2 separate regions of the Homo sapiens genome follow, and region 1 is linked to region 2. Evidence: fine-mapped expression QTL. A gene starts in region 2. The other region holds a variant in brackets. All regions are shown on one strand. Distances are between the middles of the regions.

Region 1 (4,520 bases), 46 kb after region 2:
GCTATAGAGTGAGACCCTGTCTCAAAAGAAAAGAAATGAAGAGCAAGAGAAGGAGGAAGAAGAGGAGGAGGGGGAGGAGGAGGAGGGAGATGGGGAGGAGGAGGAGGAGGAGGAAAGCAATGAGGAACCAGGTGTGGTGACTCACACCTGTAATCCCAATGCTTTGGGAGGCAGACTGGGATCACTTGAGGCCAGGTATTTGAGACCAGCATGGGCAAGATAGCAATACCCCATCTCTAGTAAAAACAAAAATAAAAGAAATGCGGATGGGCGCAGTGGCTTACGCCTGTAATCCCAGCACTTTGGGAGGCTGAGGCGGGTGGATCATGAGGTCAGGAGTTCAAGACCAGCCTGGCCAAGATGGTGAAACCCCGTCTCTACTAAAAATACAAAAATTAGCCGGGTGTGGTGGTGGGCACCTGTAATCCCAGCTACTCGGGAGGCTGAGGCAGGGAATTGTTTGAACCTGGGAGGCAGAGGTTGCAGTGAGCCGAGATCACGCCACTGCACTCCAGCCTGGGCAACAGAGGGAGACTCCACCTCAAAAAAAAAAAAAAAGAAAAAGAAAAAAAATGCAGTGGAACAACGGGGGTTCAAGGGCAGGAGCAATTACATTAGTTGAGGACATGAACAGAGGCTTAGTGGAGAGGAGGCATTTAAACAAGTCCTTGAAATACAGTGTTGACGAGAACTTTTGAAGCTAAGGGAGAACATTCTACTTAATGGGAACAGTACCAGCAAAAATGTAGAGGTGGAAAAATAAAGGGAGTTGCAGGGAATAATAAGCAGCCTGGCTTGGCCAGAGGGCAAGAGCTTTGATGAAGAGGTGCAAGAGGGATATCTAGAAAGGGAGGTGGGAGCTGGATCCTTCTGTGTGGATGCTAGGCTTTGGACAGTGGGGTCAGCACCTCCAAACTAGCATGGAGAGTATAATTTTGAGACAAGGTCTCACTCTGTTACCCAGGCTGAGGTGTGGTGGCATGATCTTGGCTCACTGCAGCCTCAAACTCCTGGGCTCAAGTGAGACTCCCAAGTAGCTGGGCCCACAGGTGCATGCCACCACACCCAGTTAACTTTATTTTTTATACAGACGGAGTCTCACTATGTTGTCCAGGCTGGCCTTGAACTCCTGGGCTAAAATGATCCTCCCATCTCTGCCTCCCAAAGTGCTGGGATTGCAGGCATGAGCGACTGTGCCTGGCCTGGCATGGAGATTCTTGAATGGGAGAGTGATGTAATGGAAAGTGGTGTTCAGGTGTTCGAATGGAAGGGCGGGGCTGGGGTTTGGAGGGCAGGGAGAGGGATTCTTCTGTGTAGATACAGCCACAGCCTTTGTCAAGGCAGATTCCAGGATCACAGAGCTAGTTTCTTTCAGGCTGCAGTAAAACCATAGTAGAATAATTACTTTGCTGCAGACTAGTGTGTTTCTTGCTTTGAACTCAACACCTAGATAAATATTAGCTCATTCTTTTCTTCATTCCCTAAAAGCGAATTTGTACCCCCATTTTACAAAGTGGGATGCTGAGACCAAGCTTCCCGATGGTGAGGGGTGTAACTATGTTCAGAGCGTTTGCCCAGCGCTGTACTGGGTGCGAGGGGTGGTCCGCAGAGGCTGCCTGTGCCCCTACATAAGCTCACCTCTTGTGGGTCCTGGAGGCAGGCTGCAGATCTCTACCAGCCAGGAGAAAACAGTCCAGGTCCCACGCTAAGACAAGTGTCCTGAGGTTTGAGGTGGGTGCCCTTTCTGGGGAGGTGGGGCTAGGCTGGTGGGCAGAGAGGGGAGGGAGGGGCATTCTAGACTGCGGTAGCCAGTCAGCATGGTCGGTGAGCTTGAGGAGTGGCAGGTGGTTGAGGCCAGCCATGCCAGGCAGTGGTGTCTGTCTGGGGCAGACGTGGTGCACAAGGCACTGGTTGGCGACATTTGTTGCTGCTTCCTGGGTCCCATCAGTCATGCATCTGTGAGATCAGGAGGACAAACAACTGTTCTGAGAAGCCATTGCTTACAGGGGTGGATTCCTTGCTATATCAAGCCCTGAAAGATTGTCCGAGGAGGAGAAAGTTGCTGTAGAAATCTGGTCAGTTGGTAACTGCAGCCCTCTATCCCCAGGGTGCTGTGTCGGTTCAGCGGGTGTGGCTCTCGCAGCTTCCATCTGCTGCCCCCTCGCCCTCTGCCCTGCTCCAAGTGGATTGCGTTGTTTGGCATCTCATCACACCCGAAGATAACCTTGAGAGTAGTTTTGTGCATCCCACATTTGGAGAGACATAGGCTGTGTTCATTTCTGTGTTTCACAGATAGGGAGGTTGAGGCCCCATAAGTGACTTGCCCAAAGACACTGGGTTAAAGGCAGCAGCAGATCCGGGTTTCTGGACTTTCTCTGTAGGGCGATGTTCTCAAGAAGATGTCAAACTCTACCCTTTGCCTACTTAGTGTGTGGCTTTGAGCAAGTTCTTAACTTCTCTGGGCTTTTGTTTCCTTCTCTGCAAAAAGGGACTGATTGATGCTTTCCTTGCAGGAAGACCTCAGGGCCTGCCCAAGCCTCTCCAAGGTCTGGCTTGGCCACGTGGCCTCCTCCACTCGGACCAGCTGTGGTCCCTTTAGAGCCATTAGTGGCCATACTGTTAGTGTCATCCTGGCTGCTGTTTCT[A/G]TTCCCTTTTGTATGTATACGTTTGTGATGAGTCATCAGTGAAATCAAAATAATTTAATGTCTCAAATTGTTGACTGTGTGTCATTTGATTGTATTCTGTGTGGGATTTACTTTTGATTTTAATTGAATATGGGCTTCTTTTCTCCTTACTGGCTTGCCAGGAAGGAGGGTTTTTTTTGGAAAGTCCCAGAGCCCATGATAGCACATGCGGTTGTCTCCTCGTCCAGGGCTTGTGAGAATAAATGCAATCCAGAGGTCATTTCTCTCCTCCAGGGATGACAGAGCTGAAGCACATCTTTGTCAGATTCTCAAATAAAAGTAATACTTTTGCATCCTCATAGCAGCATCTCTTACTTACTGAGCACAAACTACCTGCCAGGCACTGTGCTAAGAGCCTTGCAGACGTTTTATTTCATGCTCAGAACCACCTGTTCGTTGGATCCTGTTGTCCTCATTTCTTTTTGAGGTATATTCAAATACTGTAACGTTTACATTTTAAAATATACAATGCAGTATTTATTTGTATATTCACAAGATTGTATAACCATCACTGCTGTCTAATTCTAAGCCATTTTCATCACCCAAAAAAGAAACCCTGTACCATGCGGAGTCCTTTCCCATTTCCTGATCTCCGCCCAGCCCCAGGCCATTACCAGTCTACTTTCTGTCTCTATAGATTGCCTCTTCTGGACATTTTATGTAAATGGAATCATGCAACATTTGTCCTTTTGTGACTGGCTTCCTTCACATAGCAAAATGTTTTCAAGGTTCATTCATGTTGCAGCCCATGTCAGGATTTCATTCCTTTTTATGGCTGAATAATATTCCATTGAATGGATATATGACATGTCCTTTATCTGTTCATCAGCTGATGGACATTTGGATTGTCTCCACTTTTCAACTATTGTGAAAATGCTGCTGTGAACATTTATATACAGGTGTTTTTTTTTGTTTTGCTTTGTTTTTTGTTTTGTTTTGTTTTGAGGTGGAGTCTCATTCTGTTGCCCAGGCTGGAGTGCAGTGGCGCGATCTTGGCTCACTGCAACCTCCGCCTCCTGGGTTCAAGCAATTCTTCTGCCTCAGCCTCCTGAGTAGCTGTGACTACAGGCACCTGCCACCACACCCTGCTAATTTTTGTATTTTTAGTAGAGACGGGGTTTCACCATATTGGCCAGGCTGGTCTCAAACTCCTAACCTCGTGATCTGCCCGCCTCGGCCTCCCAAAGTGCTGGGATTACAGGTGTGAGCTACTCTGCCCAGCACTACATACAGGTTTTAAAACTTTATTTATTTGTTTTTATTTTTTTGAGACAAAGTCTCAAAAGGTCTGGCTCTGTTGCCCAGGCTGGGGTGCAGTGGCATGATCTTGGCTCACTGCAACCTCTGCCTCCCAAGCTCAAGCGATCCTCCCACCACAGCCTCCCAAGTAGCTAGCTGGGACTACAGGCATGCACTACCACACCCAGCTACTTTTTGTATTTTTTATAGAACCAGGGTTTTACTGTGTTGCCCAGGATGGTCTTGAACTCTTGAACTTAAGTGATCCTCCCACCTTGGCCTCCCAAAGTGCTTGGGTTACGGGCGTGAGCCACCATGCCCAGATTGCATACAGGTTTTTGAAAGAGCTCTTGTCCTCACTTTACTGAAGAAGAAACTGAGATTGGAGTTAAGTAACTTGCCTGAGGTCCCACAGCAAGAAAGAGTTGGCCCAAGAAAGGATTCAATTTGGATTCTGAGAAGAAGATATTGCTTTCTAGGTCTCTTGTGTGGTTAGAAGTTATTCTGACTGAGTATGATAGCCACTGGCTGGAGGGCCTCATGCTCAGCTTTCTTCTCTGAGGCCAACTCTCTGTAGCACATTATTTCCTAGAGAGG
Region 2 (4,000 bases):
TATATGGAGCAGATTCTGGTCTGCCAAAATTTTTCAGGATTAAAAAGCAAGATCTTGGCCGGGTGCAGTGGCTCACGCCTGTAATCCCAGCACTTTGGGAGGCTGACGGGGCGAATAACTTGAGCCCAGGACGAGCCTGGGCAACATGGAGAAACCCAGACTCTACCAAAATACAAAAAAATTAGCCAGGCGTGGTGGCACGTGCCTGTGGTCCAGCTACTCAGGAGGCTGAGGTGGGAGGATCGCTTGAGCCCAGGAAGTAGAGAGTGCAGTGAGCCGAGGTCGTGCCACTGTACTCCAGCCTGGGCGACAGAGTGAGACCCTGTACCATGCTCAAACACGAGTTGGTCTTGAACTGATCATATCGGGGGGAGATTTCTTCCATGAGTTAAGCCACCTAAGAACTCCACTATTCTGCAAAGTTAACATTTCCTTAAACCCAGCTCTCCATATATATTACTGAACTTCTGCCTGGGTCATTTAAAAAGCCTTTCAAGGCAGCCCGCCCAGCCCCCAGAGCGGCCTGGCTGAATTTCTCTGTAAAGCTCCCTCCTAGATTTTATCCCTTGGTGTTGGCAAGAAGGTCTCCTTACTCCACAGGCCTTGCTATTGTGCAACTGATTTAAGGATGGTCCAGGCCTAACTGCATCGGATTGGTTGTAGTACAGCTCCTGAGCCCTGCCCACAGGAACAAGGCTAGCAATCCTCTAGACCGCAGGAGCTGCGAAGTCCCCACCCTCTAGCAAGAGGCCACCCCAGCACCAAAAGAAGACAAAGTTCTGAAGTTAAAAAGGAGGCCCCGTTCCCTTCAATAAGGCTCCTCAAAATCGCTTTCCAGGCTCCTCCCTCTGGAGGACAGCCCAGTTAGGGCACAGACAACCTTTGAGCTCTCTTCCCGTGACCAAGCTTCACCTCTACCCCAGTATTACTTATTTGTAAACAGTTCCTGGTCATGCTTTGAAAAGCAATGCCAGGGAACCACCCTCTCTCTGGATTGCCTCTCTCTAGCCCCTTCCACAGGATCAAGCAACCACCCCACCCAACTGGGGTGTCCTTGACAAAGGTCCTTCAATCCATTTCCAAAGGCGTCGCTGCCGAAAGACACCCTACCTTAAGGCTGTCAGCACCCTACCACCCCCACCTACTTTCCCTTGGCTATTACTTGAGCTTTATTTTATCACGCTCTCCTCCCGGCCTGGGGACTCCCCTCACCCGTGGGGCCTCGTCCAGCAAAGTAAACAATGCTGTCAAAGCGGGATAACGCTGGGCGAGGCTTCCAGACTCCGCATTCCAGCCTCCTCCCGGTGTTCTAAAAGCAGCAAAAACAAGCCATCGCAGGATGCCAGGGCCGAATTCCTCTCCCAAAGTTCTTTTTTAAAAAGCCCCGGAGCCAGCTCCAAAATCAAGCATTAATTTGCACAATCTACGACAGGCAATGCAGACTGTAATGCAAGGCCAAGTGGAGCCAAATCCGCCCGGGAAGGAGGCAGAGAGGAGAGAGAGAACTGGGTCGAATGCGTAAGCCTGCCACGAAGCGGAAACAAGAGCTCTTTTTCGCGACAGGACAGCCACATTCCCGAGTGGGGCGCGCGCCGACTCGAGCTGCGGGCAAGAGCGAACACGAAGTAAAGGGTCCCGAACGCTCGGGCGGGCCCAAGGGCAGCGTCCCCGGGGCTTCGGTGGAGCTGGGGGCGGGGGCGAAGCGGCCGGGCACCGAGGCGCCGAGGAGTTAGAGGACCGCGGCGGGACACCGGGCGCGGCGGACGGCTGGCCGGCGCTCACCTCCCGGTGTGGTGGAGAAGAGCGTCCCCCCGGGCGTGGTGCAATAGTCATGAGGTAGCTGCGCGGCGTCGCTGATGGCCACGGTGCGGGTGGGGATGGCGCGGCTCTGGCTGGGCTGGTGGCCGCTGCCGGCTGACGAGGACATGGCTGTGGGCGCGGGCTCTCGGCTTTGTCCGGCGGGCAGGCGGCGGCGGCGGGGCCGGGGCTGCTTCGGCTCCTCAGGCGGACGGAAAAGCGCGCTCTGCGCGCTCCTCGCTCGCTTCCTCCCGTTCCCTCGTCCCGCTCCGCTCCCGCCGCCGCCCTCTCAGCCGCCGCCGCCGCCGCCGCTCGATCCTCCGGCCTCAGCCAGCAGCCTCAGGAGCAACAGCAGCGGCAGCAGCGGCGACGACGACGACCGGAAGCGGGCGAAGGCGGGAGCCAGAGGGAGTTGGGGAAGCTGGTCGGCCGGAGGTGACGTCGCCGCGGGGCGGGGCGAGGCAGTGAGGGGCGTGGCTGAAGTTGTTGAAGGGGGCGGGGACGAGGGGCAGGGCTGAGGAAGAGAGTGGCTTAACCCCAGCGAGCGGGAGAAGAGCCAGAGGGAGCGCGAGCTAAGTGTTTGTGAGCCTGGTGAAGGCGGACAAGGAAAACTTTCTTCTTATTGTTTGTCATTGTCGGTTAACACCACTTTACTTGAGCAGACTTGAGTTTCTCATGCATTCCTATGCATTAAAAATGTAATTTTACTTTTAATTGTTCATTATTAATTCAGGCACTACATGCACGATGTACTGTATTTTAAAAATCAAACAGAGCAGAAAGGTTTATGGTGCCACTTTCTCCCAGTTTCCGAACTCCCCTCAACCGCTGTACCAGTTAATTGTGTATCCTTCCAAAGACCATCACTATATACACACATAAAGCAAGATCTAAACATTAGGAAAAGGAAGAAACCAAGAGCCACTCATGGCAACAAGAATGAGTATTATTGTATTAGAGTTAAAATGAGGCACAGGAGAGGGCTTAGACCATGAGGTACCTGAAAAATCTAGATCTGGAACTCTATTCTTTCCTCGAGGGGTTCTCAAACTTTGGGTCTCAGTACCTCTACATTCTTGAAAATTATTGAGGATTTCCAAGAGCTTTTGTTTGTGTGGATTATATGTATTGATAATTATTGTATTAGAAATTAAAACTGAGCCGCTGCTGATCACTAGTGGGATTGTACCTGTGAATAGCCACTGCATTCCGGCCTGGGCAACAGAGTGAGGCCCTGTCTCTAAAAAACAACAACAACAACAACAACAAAAAACAAATTAAAACTGAGAATGTTTTAAATGTTTATTAATTCATAAAATAATAACCTATTACATGTTGACATTATATTTTTTAATTATCTAAAACAAATAGTGAGAACAGTGGCATTATTTTATATTTTTGCAAACGCTTTAATATCTGGCTTAATAGAAAACAGCTGTATTCTCATATCTGTTTCTGTGTTCAAGCTGTTGTAATGTGTTGATTCAACTATATGAAGAAAACCCAGCCTCACACAGGTATGTAGTTAGAAAAGAAGGTTGTCTCAGATCCCCGAGGGGCTCTCCAGATCACACTTTGAGAACCGCTGCACTAGGGCAGCACTACTTCTGCCCACAACATGCCCAAGGTGGGACTGGGAAGACACTCATGGGTAAGGCCAACATAGCTACCATCATTCCCATTTTGCAAATGAGAGAAATAAGGGTAAGAGAGGTTGAGGGGAAAACAGCTATTGCTTCACTGCTCAGAGGGTCAAACAGGTGCTTGGCAAGAACATAGACAAAAGAACTTACAACAGCCCAGGGCAGGCCAGGGCATTACATGGTACTGATTTTGTGGTGAGTGCCCCAAGAATCCAGAAAAAAAAGTCCCCTGCCTGTCCTGCCATCTGGAAGCTGCCAGAGTTGCAGAGGGCTGAGTTTAACCTTGAAAGACTCTGAGACTTTGGACATGCCAACAGAGACACTTCTAGTGGAAGGAAAGGGGAAGATACTAGTTTACATTTGTGTAGAGCTTACAGTGTGTGGTTGATAAAGTGCATCAGTCCAGTAGGGGCACAGTAACTCACACCTATAATCTCAGCAATTTGGGAAGCTCAGGTAAGAGGATGGCATGAAGCCAGGAGTTCAAGACCAGCCTGGATAAAAAAGCGAGACCCTCCTCTCACATTTCTACAAAAATAAAAATAAATAAAAAATTATCC

What was found. PIP is the estimated chance that this variant, and not a neighbour inherited with it, causes the effect.
Region 1: its variant is the best candidate, but not a certain one, in a credible set for the expression of EIF4EBP2 in whole blood (TOPMed, PIP 0.58).

Annotation. Positions count from the first base shown.
Region 1 is chr10:70,355,958-70,360,477 of GRCh38, reverse strand. The region is part of intron 2 of LRRC20 (leucine rich repeat containing 20); the gene reads left to right. Among named protein-coding and RNA genes, the nearest start is that of LRRC20, 24 kb to the left of the region's middle. The variant A/G (reference allele first, on the strand shown) is at 2,646.
Region 2 is chr10:70,402,329-70,406,328 of GRCh38, reverse strand. EIF4EBP2 (eukaryotic translation initiation factor 4E binding protein 2) reads right to left here and starts at 2,184. Exons shown (of 3, transcript NM_004096.5): 1 at 1,783-2,184. The coding sequence starts at 1,927. RefSeq lists silencers at 1,883-2,092, 2,123-2,312.